Linked DNA regions of Homo sapiens. The protein of the gene in region 1 purifies or fractionates together with the protein of each later gene. This does not show direct contact. Each region holds a gene or a part of one and is shown in the gene's direction. Other genes may lie near its edges.

Region 1 (3,500 bases):
CTGTGGAAGATGTGACATATCCAGGCGGAACATCATGATGCAGGGAAACACATGGTGAGTGCCGTGATGGGAATGGCAATAGTTTGGGAGAACCGAGAGAGGAGCAGACATTGGTGCTGGGCTATAGAGGGTGGAAAGGATTTAGATACATGGGGAGAGGGGATAATGTGCTCATTCTTTCAACAGTGGGCACAATACAATAGAGGGCCATGCCCAGGGCTGGGAAGCCAGACCAGAACAGTTAATAGAAATCCCAGAGCGCTGCCCTGACAGCGCTTGCAGTTCCGAGGTGCAGGCAGACATTAAAGGTGGAATTAGGTCCTTAGAAGGTGGATTGTAATTATTGTAGGACCTGCTAAGAAGCAGCACAGAGTGTTGTGAGAGCAAGGAACCTAACAAAGCCCTAGGGTCAGTGACAGTGGTTGTAGAAAGGCCAGCAAGGATATTATTATAATAGCCATGTAAGAGGTGATGATGTGAAGTAGATGAATTCAGGAAATATTTATGAAGCAGAAACAATTGGATTTTTTGTTTATTTTTTATTAAGGGATAGTTGCCATATAAGTGACAGCAATTTTAAAGTAAATTTTTAGCTAAGGATGGGGGGTGAGGGAGGACAAGTCAGATGATTCCCTGTTACATGTCTTAAGGACTATTAATGGTGTCATTTATTGAGATAGGAAATACTAGGAAAAGAGCAAATGTTTGTCTTGGAGGGCAAGGTCATTAATTCCTTTTAGCATATGTTATGTTGAATTTGTTGGTCCAGGTCAGTGAGACACTCAAGGAGAGAGATGGGGTTGGTAATTGGCAGTGTGGGTCTGGAGCTCAGAAGTTGTGGGCTAAAGGTGTAACTTGGGAGTTTCTGACAGATTGATGTCAATTGAAGCAGTGCAGGTGAGTAGCATCACTTTGGAAGAGAGAGTGAGCAGAGTGCCTGGGCTAGACCCCTGAGGAATACCAGACGGTTAAAGGCCCCCTAGCAGAGAAGAAGCTGGTATGGGAGACTGCCAGGAGGAACAGCCAGAGAAGTAGGAAGGCCACAGTGAAGGCATCATGTCAGGAAGCCAAGAAACGCATCCATGGGGGTGGGGGCTGGGGAGGCAACTGGACTGATTGCTGCACAGAGATCAAGCAAGGTGATTGAAAATGACCTTTGGTTTTCAAGACAAGGTGGGCACTGATCATGTCACTTATTGGAGAGGTGGTGGAAGCTGAAGTCGGATTAGAGTGAGTTAGAAGTATATACACTTTTGTCTTAGCTTGGGCTGCCATGACTAAATGCTATAGACTGGGTAACTTAAACAGTAAACATTTATTTCTCACAGTTCTGGAGGCTGGCAGTCTGAGATCAGGGTACCAGCACAGCCAGGTTTCTGATGCATGCCCTCCTCCTGCCTTGCAGGTGGCTGCCTTCTTGTTGTAGTCTCACCTGGTAAGGGGTGGGTGGCAGGGATTTCTTTTCTCTTTCTCTCTTCATAAGGGTACTAATCCCATCATAATTACCTCTCAGAGTCCCCACTTCCATATAGCATCACATCAGCGTTATGATTTCATCAGCAGGAATTTTGGGATGGACACAAACATTCGGTCTGTAGCAACGTTTTCAGGTCATTTGACTGTAAAGGGGAGGACAAAGAAGGGGCAAAGTCAAGGGAGACCTGGAGGCCAAGGAAAGTACTTTATGTTGGAATAGACCTGAGCACTTTCAAATGCTGATGTGAAGGGTCTGGTATCAGGGAGAGGTGGAGGATTGCAGAGGGGGGGTGGTAATCCCAAATCTGCATTTGGAGATGGGAGTGGGGGCTGGGGAGGCAAGCCCCCTTGATCTTGTGAGGTCAAGATCAGAGGGGAACTTGAGCAAAGGCATGACAGCAAATGGTGAACAATGGGATGTTGAATTGGTCATTTTGGAAGTGGAGCAGCTTTAAGGAATGGTCGGTCCAGGGACTAAACATGGCAGTGGGCTGGGTGGCCAAGAAAGGGGAAGAGGAGTTTATTGAGCATGAGGGTTTCAGATGTTAGCAGGAACCCAGTATTAAATGGGTGGCCTATTCCAGTGGCTTGACTAGGGGGTCTTTGAGTTGCTCATCAAGATGGTCAGGCATTTATGAAACCCTGTTTACATAGTAAGAATTATTTTTTAAAAAAACTTTTCCCTTTTTCTTTTCTGCCATGAAGTCACAGAATGTCGTTCCACCCGGGACGAGGGTGTCCCCGAGGACGAGGAGGACATGGAGCCAGACCCTCAGCACCATCCTTTAGGCCCCAAAATCTGAGGCTGCTTCACCCTCAGCAGCCTCCTGTGCAATATCAATATGAACCTCCAAGTGCCCCTTCCACCACTTTCTCAAACTCTCCAGCCCCCAATTTTCTCCCTCCACGACCAGACTTTGTACCCTTCCCCCCACCCATGCCTCCGTCAGCGCAAGGCCCTCTTCCCCCCTGCCCAATCAGGCCGCCTTTCCCCAACCACCAGATGAGGCACCCCTTCCCAGTTCCTCCTTGTTTTCCTCCCATGCCACCACCAATGCCTTGTCCTAATAACCCCCCAGTCCCTGGGGCACCTCCTGGACAAGGCACTTTCCCCTTCATGATGCCCCCTCCCTCCATGCCTCATCCCCCGCCCCCTCCAGTCATGCCGCAGCAGGTTAATTATCAGTACCCTCCGGGCTATTCTCACCACAACTTCCCACCTCCCAGTTTTAATAGTTTCCAGAACAACCCTAGTTCTTTCCTGCCCAGTGCTAATAACAGCAGTAGTCCTCATTTCAGACATCTCCCTCCATACCCACTCCCAAAGGCTCCCAGTGAGAGAAGGTCCCCAGAAAGGCTGAAACACTATGATGACCACAGGCACCGAGATCACAGTCATGGGCGAGGTGAGAGGCATCGGTCCCTGGATCGGCGGGAGCGAGGCCGCAGTCCCGACAGGAGAAGACAAGACAGCCGGTACAGATCTGATTATGACCGAGGGAGAACACCATCTCGCCACCGCAGCTACGAACGGAGCAGGTAAACCGCTTGTGTGTAGTTCTTTAATGAACTGCAGAGGCCCAGGCACGGTCATTCTCCATTTATGACAACCAAACCAAAAGGATCCAGTAGGGCATCTTGATTTATGTAAGGAAAGGAAGCACATTTTGGACTCTGTTTTCAAGAGGAAGAAACAACTGACAAATAAGTTGATGTCAGAAAAAAATTGCTTTTAAAAAGCATTCCAAATATATCAGTGTAGATTCATTTCAGTGAATATAAGACTTTTACTCTGCATAATACAGTTGACATTTTAATGATGATCCCATGAGATGAAAGATCTTGTATTTTTTGTGTTATCATAGATTAAATTATGTTCAATGTGATCATCATATCAGGTTATAGCATTTGAGTTTTTTTGGAACTGGCGATCTGCGTGTTAATAAAGAATCAAATTAGTTAACAGGAAGGACTTTCTGAGTTTTAGGATAAGTAGAAATTTATTGTACATTGTTGCCTTCTTG
Region 2 (3,500 bases), about 100 Mb from region 1:
TTTGCTCCTCTCCCTGTGCTAGTTTTACTAGTAAGAGTTCTAGGTTTTTAAAACTGACACCTATTGTTCTTTTTGAAACCAATCTCTTGAAGTTTAGTGGCATACCCATTCACCAAAGTCACTGGCCTTTTCTTTGTTTACATTCTCTTTAAACTCTCCCATATGTTTAATCTTCTGCAGTACCATTGTATCTAGTTCTGTCTTTTTAATAGTGCATTATCAGTAACTCACTATCAGGAAACTCTTTCCTAACAGTGAATGTTTCGTAATATTTAGGTGTTTACTTACTGTTCTTTTCACTCTGTTGCAAACTTTTTTTTTTTAGCTCTTTGTGCAAAATCTTAAATCTGTTTCTCATCTTTACCTGGCTAAACCTGTATCTCCAGTCATGACCTTTTCCCAGTGGAGTTTACCACCATTTCTACTGACAAAGCTGCCTTCTGAATGTTTTTAATTCTGTGGGTAGAATTCTCATTTTATCATTATCTTAGTCAACGTGGGTTTAAAATTTGAAATTATCTCTTAATTTCAAGGTACAGTTAGTAGAAAAATCAGTGACCATTCATTAAGTATCATAGTGTGTGGTATGGCACATGCAATGGTCCAGGTGCTGAAGACTACTTCTTAGAAGGATTTTGTACTGTATTTGGGAAGTTATGATATTATTTATGACTTATTAATTAGTTTTTATTATAAATATTCAGTGACCATAGCCTCTTCAGCATTGGGTGGTAAAGGAAGTCTTCACAAAAGGGGATAGATTGGAGCTCATCATTAAGAATGACTAAGATTTCTCTTGGAAGACACAGATGGGCAGAGGGGCAGGGATTTGGATTGGATCAGAAGGTGTGTATAGTGGAAGAGTAATGGGCAAGATTAGATTAGGACTAGATCTAGCCAGTCTCTTAAGTCTTGGTTCGTCTTCTTTCTGAATGCTAATGATTAGAATTCATGTTTGAATAGTACTGTTGAGTTTGTAAAGCTTGTGTTAGATAGACATTAGTACTTTAATATTTCTGTGACTTAGGAACCATCATCTCTATTTTACAGAAAAGTTAATAGGCTTTGAAAAAGTGATACTAGTAAAGAACAGAATCTGGTGGGCACAGTGGCTCAAGCCTATAATGCCATCAACTTGGGAGACTGAGTCTGGTGTGTTTCATTTCCAGGCATATTTTTATTCTCTGATATCATAGATATCTATAAATAACAATTTTTTTGTTTTAAGTTTGATATAGACATCCTTAGAAAGGTATATATATTTTTACAAATTGTTTTTCTTACTCATTTATTTGATAAATGGACACTATTCTAGGTCCAGGGCATCCAGTGGTTTTGAGGGCAGACGAGACTACCTGCATACTAACATTGCATTGGGGAAAACAAAGTAAATAAACAAAGTTGATAATGTAATATCAGATTAGGGTAAATGCTATAAAAAATGAACAGGGTCAGGGGATAGAGAATGTTGTGAGAATGGGCTGTCATGCTATTTTCAATCAAGTGGTCAGGGAATTCCTCTTTCAGGAGGTGACCTTTGAACAACTGAATTAATTTGAGTGAGTATGCTGCGTTAAGTTACGGGAGAAGAGAATTTAGGGGAGAGAACATCAGATGCAAAGACCTCACATAGAAATAACCTTAGAATACTTGAGAAATGGAAAGAAGTTAAGTGTGGTTAAATGCAATTAGGTAGGATAATGGTTAAGAAATGAGTAAGGAGAAGCCAAGGGCCTGATCATGTATGATATTGTATTCAGAATTCTGGTCTTGAAGCTCCTGTCTTTTTGCCTCCCTCTTCCTTAACTGTCTCTCTGTTGCTCATACACATACTCTCTCACACATACGTACACTACCCTATCTAGCCCCCCATTATATTCTAGTGTTCATGAATCAGTCAGCCAGGCCTGTCTCTTATCTAGCCTAGGAAATGCTATGTTCATGTCTGCCTATATATATATTTTTTTGTTTGTGTGCCTTTGCCTTTGACATTTCCCATCTCATCTCAGACAACCAAACCATGGTTTTACTTCCTGACCCACATGGATTTTATCATACATCCTTGATGTAGATGCAACTGAGGTCAGCCCTTCTTACAGTTCATTTAGTACATAACACTTTATACTCTGTGACCTGTTAGTGACAATTATGCTTTCATTCTCTTTGTTATATCTCTCTATTTTAATGTGGCCAGTTTTGTTTGCCTAGGAAAAATCATCCTACATAGGGCTGGGCAAGACAAGGCACAAGGCATATCCATACATAAGGAGGATATCTTTACTTCCCTGTACCCTTCCCCACCATGGTTCCAGCATAGAAGGCTGGATAGCTGCCAGTAGTTGATCGGCATCCAGAACTGTATCTGGTACTTTAGTAGGCTCTCAGTAAGTGTATTTTGAATGAATCAGTTTATTGACTGTTGAGATTAAACCCTACTTGGCATAACTTTTTTTAAAAAGCCCCATCATGGCTATTCACAATACATGGGATGTAACAAAGAATCAATAATTATTTGTTGAGTGTATGTCAGTTTTACTTTACTCTGTGTTTACATTATCTTTATTTACTTTATGTTATTGTCTGGGCTTTAGCTGAGCACATACATTCTTTTCTGGAAAGATGCACCCCAGTCCAGAATAATATTGATGCTAGAATTTTTCAAAGACAAAGCTATAGCTTTTGGCAATTGTAGGCACAAGAAAGGAAGCATCTTTTGTTACACCATTTTTCCAAACGTTATTCTTGTTACTTTAGTAGGTATTTATCGTCTGTGGTTGGCTGTGCAGCGATCTGCAGGAGATCTTACACATTCTTTTTATTCTTTATTTAGAAATGGGATCTCACTATGTTGCTCAGACTGGACGTGATTGAACTCCTGGGCTCAAGTGAGTCTCCCGAATAACTGGGATTACAGGTGTGTGCCACTGAGCCTGGTTTTTACCAGCTTCTATCGGTGGAGTGCCTGTCACTTCCACCTGTCATCATCAGGAGCTTCTTAATGGTGCAGAACAGTGGTTTACCTGGAGCAAGCTCATTAACCAATATAAAATATCACTTAAAATAAGCCGATAGGAATTATAAAATTAGAAACTGACCCTTTTAAAATGAATTTATTCTCTTTAAATTTATTCAACATACTTAGTTTTACAAATAGATACTTGCCATTTTACTGGCAGTTATAATGATTTATTTGAGGGTTTGGTACATCTTATACAACCGTGAATACAATTTGCATCTAATAATGTGACTTCAGTAGTATCATGATTTTTGTCCAAACCTTCTCAGTCTGGGAAACATTTAAAGAGAATAATGACCTTAGAGAAGAGCTGGATTTCTTTTAAGACTTCTATTCAGATCAGGACACAATCACGTTCAAAATTGACATAGCATGTAACATGGATTTCAGTGAAGAAAAGTACTTCAGAATCAAATTTTAGAAGAGTGTTTTAGGGTTTAGTGGCCTAATCAAAGGGAGTCCAGAAGCTATTTTTGGATAATAC
Region 3 (4,295 bases), on another chromosome or scaffold:
CCCAGGCTGGAGTGCAGTGGCACGATCTCAGCTCACTCCAACCTCTGCCTCCTGGGTTCAAGTGATTCTCCTGCCTCAGCCTCCTGAGTAGCTGAGATTACAGGTGAGCACCACCACGCCTGGATACTTTTTGTATTTTTAGTAGGCATGGGGTTTCACCATGTTGACCAGGCTGGTCTTGATCTCCTGACCTGGTGATCTGCCTGCCTCAGCCTCCCAAAAGTGTTGGGATTACAGGAGTGAGCCCCCGCGCCCTGCCTCTGCGTTTCTTTTCTGTCTATGAAATTATCCCGATTGTTCTGCTCATTGGAACACTGTTTCTGCTTTATAGAATGAGACGTTGCCCAATTCTAGAATAGCAGGTAAAAGTTAATTAAGATCTTTAAACTAAATTTGTTGTAATTTTGTCTTTTGACATGTAATTTTCTGTATATTCGTTATACTTCAATAAAAAGTTAAAAGAAACATAACTAAATTTCTATTTGAAAACAGAAGCTCTTCCTTTTGAAGGATGCCTTGCTGCTCCACTTTCCATTCACATTCACCTCCTGAGAGAGGTGAAGATCTGGGTTGCTAAGATGGAAGAAAGGTCAATTATTTGCATGTTACTCAAGTGATGCACTGACACAATATTCTCACAGTTCTCCCTCCCCCCGCCCCCCCCCACACACCCAAAAGAATTCAGTGTATTAGCTTTGCTTTTTAGTGATTCACTCAAGCTAAAGTAAGAGTTTATGTCTGGTATTACGTTGAGAGCTTTTGGAAGATTATCTTCCAGGTTGTCTTTAGACCATCTTTGTATCTGGTTTTTGCTCTCTTTGCTTTTGCTCTGAGATTCTGCAACACCGATTTATATGTGTTGAGACAGTCTAAAAAATTCCATTTCTCCCCTTCTACAATTCCTGCAGATGTTACTCACTATATGTCTGCAGGAATTGGTGTAATCTTACACTCTGCCTTGAAAACACCTTTCCATTCTTCACAGCTTTGTTCCCAGTTGAATTTCTGGGGAGAATTGAGTTAGGTCTATTCATTTAATTTGGGAGAAACTGACATCTTTACAATTTTTCCTCTTTTCACCCAGGATCATGGTAAGCCTCTCCATTATTTGAAGTCTAATTTCATCCTACTTGGATATGCTTCTTTATGACTCTGTAGCTTTCTACATATAAGTCCTACATCTTTCTTGTTAGAGTTTTTCCTAGTTGCTTTATGTTTTTTTGTTGTTGTTGCGATTGTTGCTATTGTGAATGGAACCTTTTTTTTTTTTCATTCAAAAATGAACCCGTGGAGCGATAGGATCTCTACCACCTCTTTCGGCTGTGAGACTCTATGGTTTTTCAGTTCTATGAGAACATTCTACTGGAGCCTACATTATCTGAACCCAAAGGAAGATGGCAACCACGAGTCGCCAAGTAAAGGACCGCTCTATCTCGCCTTTGTTCTCCTCTCGGTGGTTACTGCGCAGACGTAGTCGCCCAAGTCGCGTCCCCGCCTTCCCGGTCGCGGGCCCAGCTCGGGAGCGCCGGCGCACTGGCGCGCTCCGTTTACACGCTCCGGGGCCTGTAGGCGCCGCGAGTTCCGGCTGTCGCCGTCGCCGCCGCGGCTCCTGGAGGTCGGTTGCGACGAGTAACGGCGCCAGGACGAGCCCTGCGCCTTCTTTTTCGATATGTACCCGAATTGGGGCCGGTATGGCGGGAGCAGCCACTATCCGCCGCCACCGGTCCCACCGCCGCCGCCAGTGGCGCTTCCTGAGGCCTCGCCGGGGCCCGGGTACTCGAGCTCGACGACTCCCGCGGCCCCCTCCTCCTCGGGCTTCATGAGCTTCCGCGAACAGCACTTGGCGCAGCTCCAGCAGCTGCAGCAGATGCACCAGAAGCAAATGCAGTGCGTGCTTCAGCCCCACCACCTTCCTCCGCCCCCTCTGCCGCCCCCGCCAGTGATGCCGGGGGGCGGCTACGGAGACTGGCAGCCGCCACCGCCACCGATGCCCCCGCCACCCGGGCCGGCCCTCAGCTATCAGAAGCAGCAGCAGTACAAACACCAGATGCTCCACCACCAACGAGACGGGCCTCCTGGTTTGGTTCCAATGGAGCTGGAATCCCCCCCTGAATCTCCCCCTGTGCCGCCTGGGTCCTATATGCCCCCATCTCAGTCTTACATGCCCCCACCTCAGCCGCCACCCTCTTACTACCCCCCGACCTCATCTCAGCCCTACCTGCCTCCTGCTCAGCCGTCCCCTTCGCAGTCCCCACCTTCCCAATCCTACCTGGCGCCCACCCCTTCTTACTCATCCTCCTCCTCTTCCTCGCAATCCTATTTGAGCCATTCCCAGTCCTACTTGCCCTCTTCTCAGGCATCTCCTTCCCGCCCCTCCCAGGGCCATTCTAAATCCCAACTACTAGCTCCACCACCACCGTCCGCCCCCCCTGGAAATAAGACAACTGTCCAGCAAGAGCCTTTGGAGAGTGGGGCCAAAAACAAGAGTACTGAACAGCAGCAAGCCGCCCCTGAGCCAGATCCCTCTACGATGACTCCACAGGTAAGAAAGCATCTGCCTGAACCTCATCTTTCACCTAGAGGGCCCTGAATGAGCAGGCCTCAGGGCTTTAACCAGTGGTTAGTCTAATTCCAACACACAATGACTAGCTAACACTCCAAAGGATTCCGTAAGAGTCAGAGGGCTGACAGCTCAGCTTTTTAATTAGCTAGATGTGAATTACCAAAAAAACAGCGTTTGTAGATGTGTATGGATTACATACAGTGGTGGGGTGGCTCAAAAGTTACCTCTCAGATACATTCCTTGGTTTCTTTGACCATCCTCTTAGATTTTGTTGCTGTTGCAAATAGATTTTGTTGCAGAGGGTCTTGTTTTAAAATTGTATTTTAAACGAAAGTTTCCATTTGAGAGAAAGCATGAAAAAGAGGCCTCGCCAAGGGCTGACACTTGAATGTTTGTAAACTTTATGATTAGTTAGCTTCTTTTAAAAATATTACTTAGGGGCCAGGGATAGTTGTCAGCTTCCTGAATTAAGAGGTTTCAGAAAAAGGATGGAAATCTTGTCTTACCAGGAGCATCCTAATTATGCTTATAGGTACATATACAATACATAGATGAGTCCCGAGACCCTTTTGGGGATCGATTGGTCCATTTTAGGAATTGACCCAGACATCCTTTTCTCATATTATTTAAAGATTGTTTTAAGATAATGAGCAATTTTCTGCGTTTCATTGTCATTACCATTCACTCCAAAGAAACAGCCTTGCAATTTGGCCAACGTAAAAAAAGTTTGGTGATATCTTTTCATGAGAGAGTCAGCCATTCTTATCCCGCAGAACAGACAAATTGACAGGGTAACAGTAATAAACGAGTTCCCCCTTGAGAGAGGGAAGGTCAAACTAAAGCAGAATAAATCAATTGTTATGATTTCCTAAAGTAGACACTTTTTCAGCGATTACTAATTTACCTTAGATTCACTAAGGAAAAAAGAGAATCTTGTAATATAAACGCTCAGATTTACCTATAAAAGATTTCCAAAAGATAGGGATGCAGTATTATAATTTTACGGTGGTTTGGCATTAGAAATTAAGAACAGAAGCAAGTTGTTTTAAGAAATGATGCTTGGCACATCTTCTGGAGAAAACACTTGGGATGCTGAAATAAAGTAGTAGAATAATGATTCTGTTGGCTTACATCAAATTTGTACCATCTCACCAGTTTATTTTCCCCAGATTGCTCTATTATAGAGACAGACTTTCTGTCCTCTTTCCCACCCCACTCTGAAGTCTTTAGTGCTTTTGTTGTCAAACATTCTCAGTTAGTCTGAGCCAAAATAGGACATTTATATTCTCACTCTACTAGACTGTTTTTCTGACCTTACAGAGAGACAAAATAATTGTATTTTTGGCTTTTTTTGGGAGGAGTGTGTGTGTCAGATCAGGCCTTAATATGTATAGTTACCATGAACAGTGCTTTTACTTTTCTGCCTTTGTACCCTTTTCTGTAATGAACTCAGTGTCTTGAATATTCAGTGCCTGCAATTCTTTGGTGAGAGGCAGAGTGGTGGAAAATGAGACTTGTGGTGCACATAGACCAGATCAAGAAGAGCCTTGAAGCCTGTGGCTTTCTTTCTTCTTTTTAGAATTCATCCTAACCTCCTCAACCCTCTGTTTCCCCTTAGAGTTGTATTGCTTTCAAGGCATATCTCAAATATCAAGGTTTCCATGAAGCCCTGCTTGTGCTCACCCATCTGGTTTGGTTCTGTTCTTCAGATTGTAAGTCCCTTGCAGACAGG
Region 4 (3,500 bases), on another chromosome or scaffold:
TCAACAAATCCCACAACTCAGTTTAAAAAAATGATTTAGGCTGGGCACAATGGCTCACAACTCTAATGTCAGCACTTAGGGAGGCTGAGGTGGGAGGATTGCTTGAGACTGGGAGTTTAAGACCAGCTTGGGCAACATAGTGAGACCCTGTCTCTACAAAAAAATTTTGGTTTTTTTGTTTTTTTTTTTGAGACGGAGTCTTACTCTGTCACCCAGGCTAGAGTGCAGTGGCACCATCTCAGCTCACTGCAATATCTGCCTCCCAAGTTCAAGCGATTCTCCTGCCTCAGCCTCCCAAGTAGCTGGGACCACAAATGTGTGCCACCATGCTTGGCTAAATTTTGTATTTTTAGTAGAGACGGGGTTCCACCATGTTGGCCAGGCTGGTCTTGAACTCCTGACCTCAAGTGATCCACCCACCTCGGCCTCCCAAAGTGTTGGGATTATAGGTGTGAGCCATCATGCCCGGCCTAAAAAATTTTTATTAATTGGCCAGTCATGGTGGCGCGTGCCTATAGTCCCAGCTACTTGGGAGGTAGAGATAGGAGGATTGCTTGAGTCCAGGAGTTTGAAGTTACAGTGAGCTATGAATGTACCACTGCACTCTAGCCTGGGTGACAGAGCGAGACTGTGTTTCTTAAAAAAAAAAAAAAAAATTATGCGTATGTTTTTCGGAGTTCCTAAACACACGTCTGTATATGACCCAGAATAATGGCAATCCTGTCATGTGGGCTCTGTGCTGTCCTGGTGCACTCAGCCTACAGCTGCCATGCCAGGCACTATTACTGCTAAGAATATATGTGTGTGCATGTATGTATATATGTGTGTGCACGTATTATATGTGTGTGTATGTATATGTGTGTGCATGCATGTGTGTATATGTGTGTGTATGTGTGCGTATGCATGTGTGCGTGCATGTATGTGTTGTGCATGTATGTATATGCGTACATGTGTATGCATGCATATGTGTGTGTGTATGTATATATGTGTGCATGTGTGTATACGATGTATGTATGCATGTATGTATATATGTGTGCATGTATTTTATGCGTGCATGTATGCATATATGTATGCATGTTATGTATATGTGTGCGTGTATTTTTTTCTATGAAAAATTGGTCAGTTTTGGGAAGACATTTTAGCATGACCTTTCTTCTGATCCAGTTGATTAAAAGTCTTACTTGCGGTAGCAGTTGGCTATATTAATTCAGCACTTTTATTTCTGAAGATCTAAAACCCAGCATTCTCTCCCTTTTCTCCCACCAACAATGTTCCTGTAAAGTGGAGGGAAAGAAAATGAGTGACCCTTCTCATTTGATCGTTAGGAACCAGGTGGTGAGAGAACTAATGGAGATGCTTGACAAAGACAAGAACAGATCCTGCATTGCTTGATGGGACAATAAAGTTTCCCATAGGCTGGCTGGAGAAGACTCACTTCTCAGCATCTTGGTGTTTTTTCTTTGTTTGTTTGTTTTGATTGTTTTGAGATGGAGTCTCGCTCTGTTGCGAGGCTGGAGTGCAGTGGTATGATCTCGGCTCACTGTAACCTCCACCTCCTGGTTTCAAGCGATTCTCCTGCCTCAGCCTCCTGAGTAGCTGGAACTACAGGCACGTGCCACCACGCCTGGCTAATTTTTGTATTTTTAGTAGAGACAAGGTTTCGCCATCTTGGCCACGATGGTCTCAATCTCTTGACCTTGTGATCTACCCGCCTCGGCCTCCCAAAGTGCTGGGATTACAGGCGTGAGCCACCGCACCTGGCCAGCATCTTGGTTTTTAATCATTGCCTGGGGGAGCTCCTGCACAGCGTTGCTGCACACCCATTCGCCCCAAATTGTCTTTTTCTTGTTTGTGGCGGGGCAGTTTTGAGACAGTCTCGCTCTGTCGCCCAGGCTGAGTGCAGTGGCTCGATCTCGGCTCACTGCAACCTCTGCCTCGCGGGTTCAAGTGATTCTTGTTCCTCAGCCTCCTGAGTAGCTGGGATTACAGGCAGTGCACCACCATGCCCAGCTAATTTTTTGTATTTTTATTAGAAGTGGGGTTTCGCTATATTGGTCAGGCTGATCTCGAACTCCTCGAGGTGATCCCCCTGCCTCAGCCTCCCAAAGTGCTGGGATTACAGGCGTGAGCCACTGTGCCCGGCCCCCAAATTGTTAAAGACCAGACAAGCTGGGCATTTTGTGTGGTTGTGGATGGAAAGGGCAAATTGATCTTTACTCTCAAAGTGAATTTTATTTGTCTTTTCCTTGATTTTTCAAACAGGATGTAGGCTATCCGGAATTCCTCAACATACGTCCGTATATGTCCCAGAATAATGGTGATCCTGTCATGTATGGACTCTATGCTGTCCTGGTGCACTCGGGCTACAGCTGCCATGCCGGGCACTATTACTGCTACGTGAAGGTGAGAGGCTTGTGTCAGTGCAGCTGCCTCCTGGGACAGGTTTCAGCACCCATGCACATCCAGATGCGGCCTCTGTAGAGCACTTACTTTGTGAAAAGTGTGATGTTTTGTGGTTGTATTCAAGTCCTCGTTGTTGCCTCTCTGCGTGGAGTGAAAAGATGCCCTTTACAGAAGTGTTGCACCAGAATCTAGTGTTCTCAGACTTGCAGGGAGACACGGAAGAGGCAGCCGCTTCTGGTGCCATCCTTAGAACCCTGGCAAAATCGGCCATGGTGATGACACTGCCTGAATGTCCTTTAGAAGGGACAGTTCCTATCTGTTGGGGCACTAGGAAGGAACTGGGACGCAGAGCACACTTTGGGGTCACATTCCGAGTTATGAAAATATTACACGTTTTAATAGAAGTTGTTACCTGTTGATTATTAATAGTGTTTGGAAATGTAGCAACTAACAGATTTTTTATTCCCTTTTTAAAAAGTGAGGATAATGGGATGCTTGTTGATTGTTTTGTTTTCTGCAACATCCTTGGCTGCTTCAGGCAAGCAATGGACAGTGGTACCAGATGAATGATTCCTTGGTCCATTCCAGCAACGTCAAGGTGGTTCTGAACCAGCAGGCCTACGTGCTGTTCTATCTGCGGTAATAAACTCACGCCCTCCCCAGATGAGCTCACTCCCTCTGCTCTTTTCTTATACCGGTGGGCCTCCCTAACCTTTTTTTGTTTGAAGGTAATTGGGAATTCCACTGGAGGGATTTGTCATGTGTCATAGAGACCGTCCACAGGGAAGGACACTTTTTAGTAAAGCCAGAGCCTTGGGAAGGTCAGGACAGGATCCCATCTGCCCTCACATTGATGCTGTTTTGAATGTAAACAGGAAAGTCACCATTTATAGTATTGCCCCAAATTAGAGGTACTGCTCCCTGGATGGTAGCCAGCCAATGCCCCTTCCCGTGTGGGGAAGCTGCCCCTGTAGGGATATGCTGGGAAGGACGTGTTTGTGGGGGTGCTGCTGCAGAGCTTCTCTGGAGGGGCCTTCTCCTGGAGCTGGCTGTCACTGACCTGGAGGCTGGAGACCGTGGCAGCTGAGGCATTTTTG

The links.
Region 2: the proteins of DROSHA (region 1) and SMAD5 purify together in Homo sapiens (co-immunoprecipitation; one study listed by IntAct). This does not show direct contact.
Region 3: the proteins of DROSHA (region 1) and YLPM1 purify together in Homo sapiens (affinity purification with mass spectrometry, with the first as the bait; one large-scale study listed by BioGRID). This does not show direct contact.
Region 4: the proteins of DROSHA (region 1) and USP36 purify together in Homo sapiens (affinity purification with western blotting; one study listed by BioGRID). This does not show direct contact.

What each region holds. Positions count from the first base shown.
Region 1 is NC_000005.10:31,525,594-31,529,093, reverse strand, and holds part of DROSHA (ribonuclease 3), read left to right. Parts: 5' UTR 1-34; coding exon 35-54; intron 55-2,181; coding exon 2,182-3,015; intron 3,016-3,500. UniProt on the Homo sapiens protein: Ribonuclease III double-stranded (ds) RNA-specific endoribonuclease that is involved in the initial step of microRNA (miRNA) biogenesis.
Region 2 is NC_000005.10:136,149,845-136,153,344, forward strand, and holds part of SMAD5 (mothers against decapentaplegic homolog 5), read left to right. Parts: intron 1-2,830; exon of another isoform or gene 2,831-2,914; intron 2,915-3,500. UniProt on the Homo sapiens protein: Transcriptional regulator that plays a role in various cellular processes including embryonic development, cell differentiation, angiogenesis and tissue homeostasis.
Region 3 is NC_000014.9:74,761,821-74,766,115, forward strand, and holds the start of YLPM1 (YLP motif-containing protein 1), read left to right. Parts: upstream 1-1,495; 5' UTR 1,496-1,669; coding exon 1,670-2,542; intron 2,543-4,295. UniProt on the Homo sapiens protein: Plays a role in the reduction of telomerase activity during differentiation of embryonic stem cells by binding to the core promoter of TERT and controlling its down-regulation.
Region 4 is NC_000017.11:78,813,315-78,816,814, reverse strand, and holds part of USP36 (ubiquitin carboxyl-terminal hydrolase 36), read left to right. Parts: intron 1-2,262; coding exon 2,263-2,403; intron 2,404-2,941; coding exon 2,942-3,042; intron 3,043-3,500. UniProt on the Homo sapiens protein: Deubiquitinase essential for the regulation of nucleolar structure and function. Required for cell and organism viability.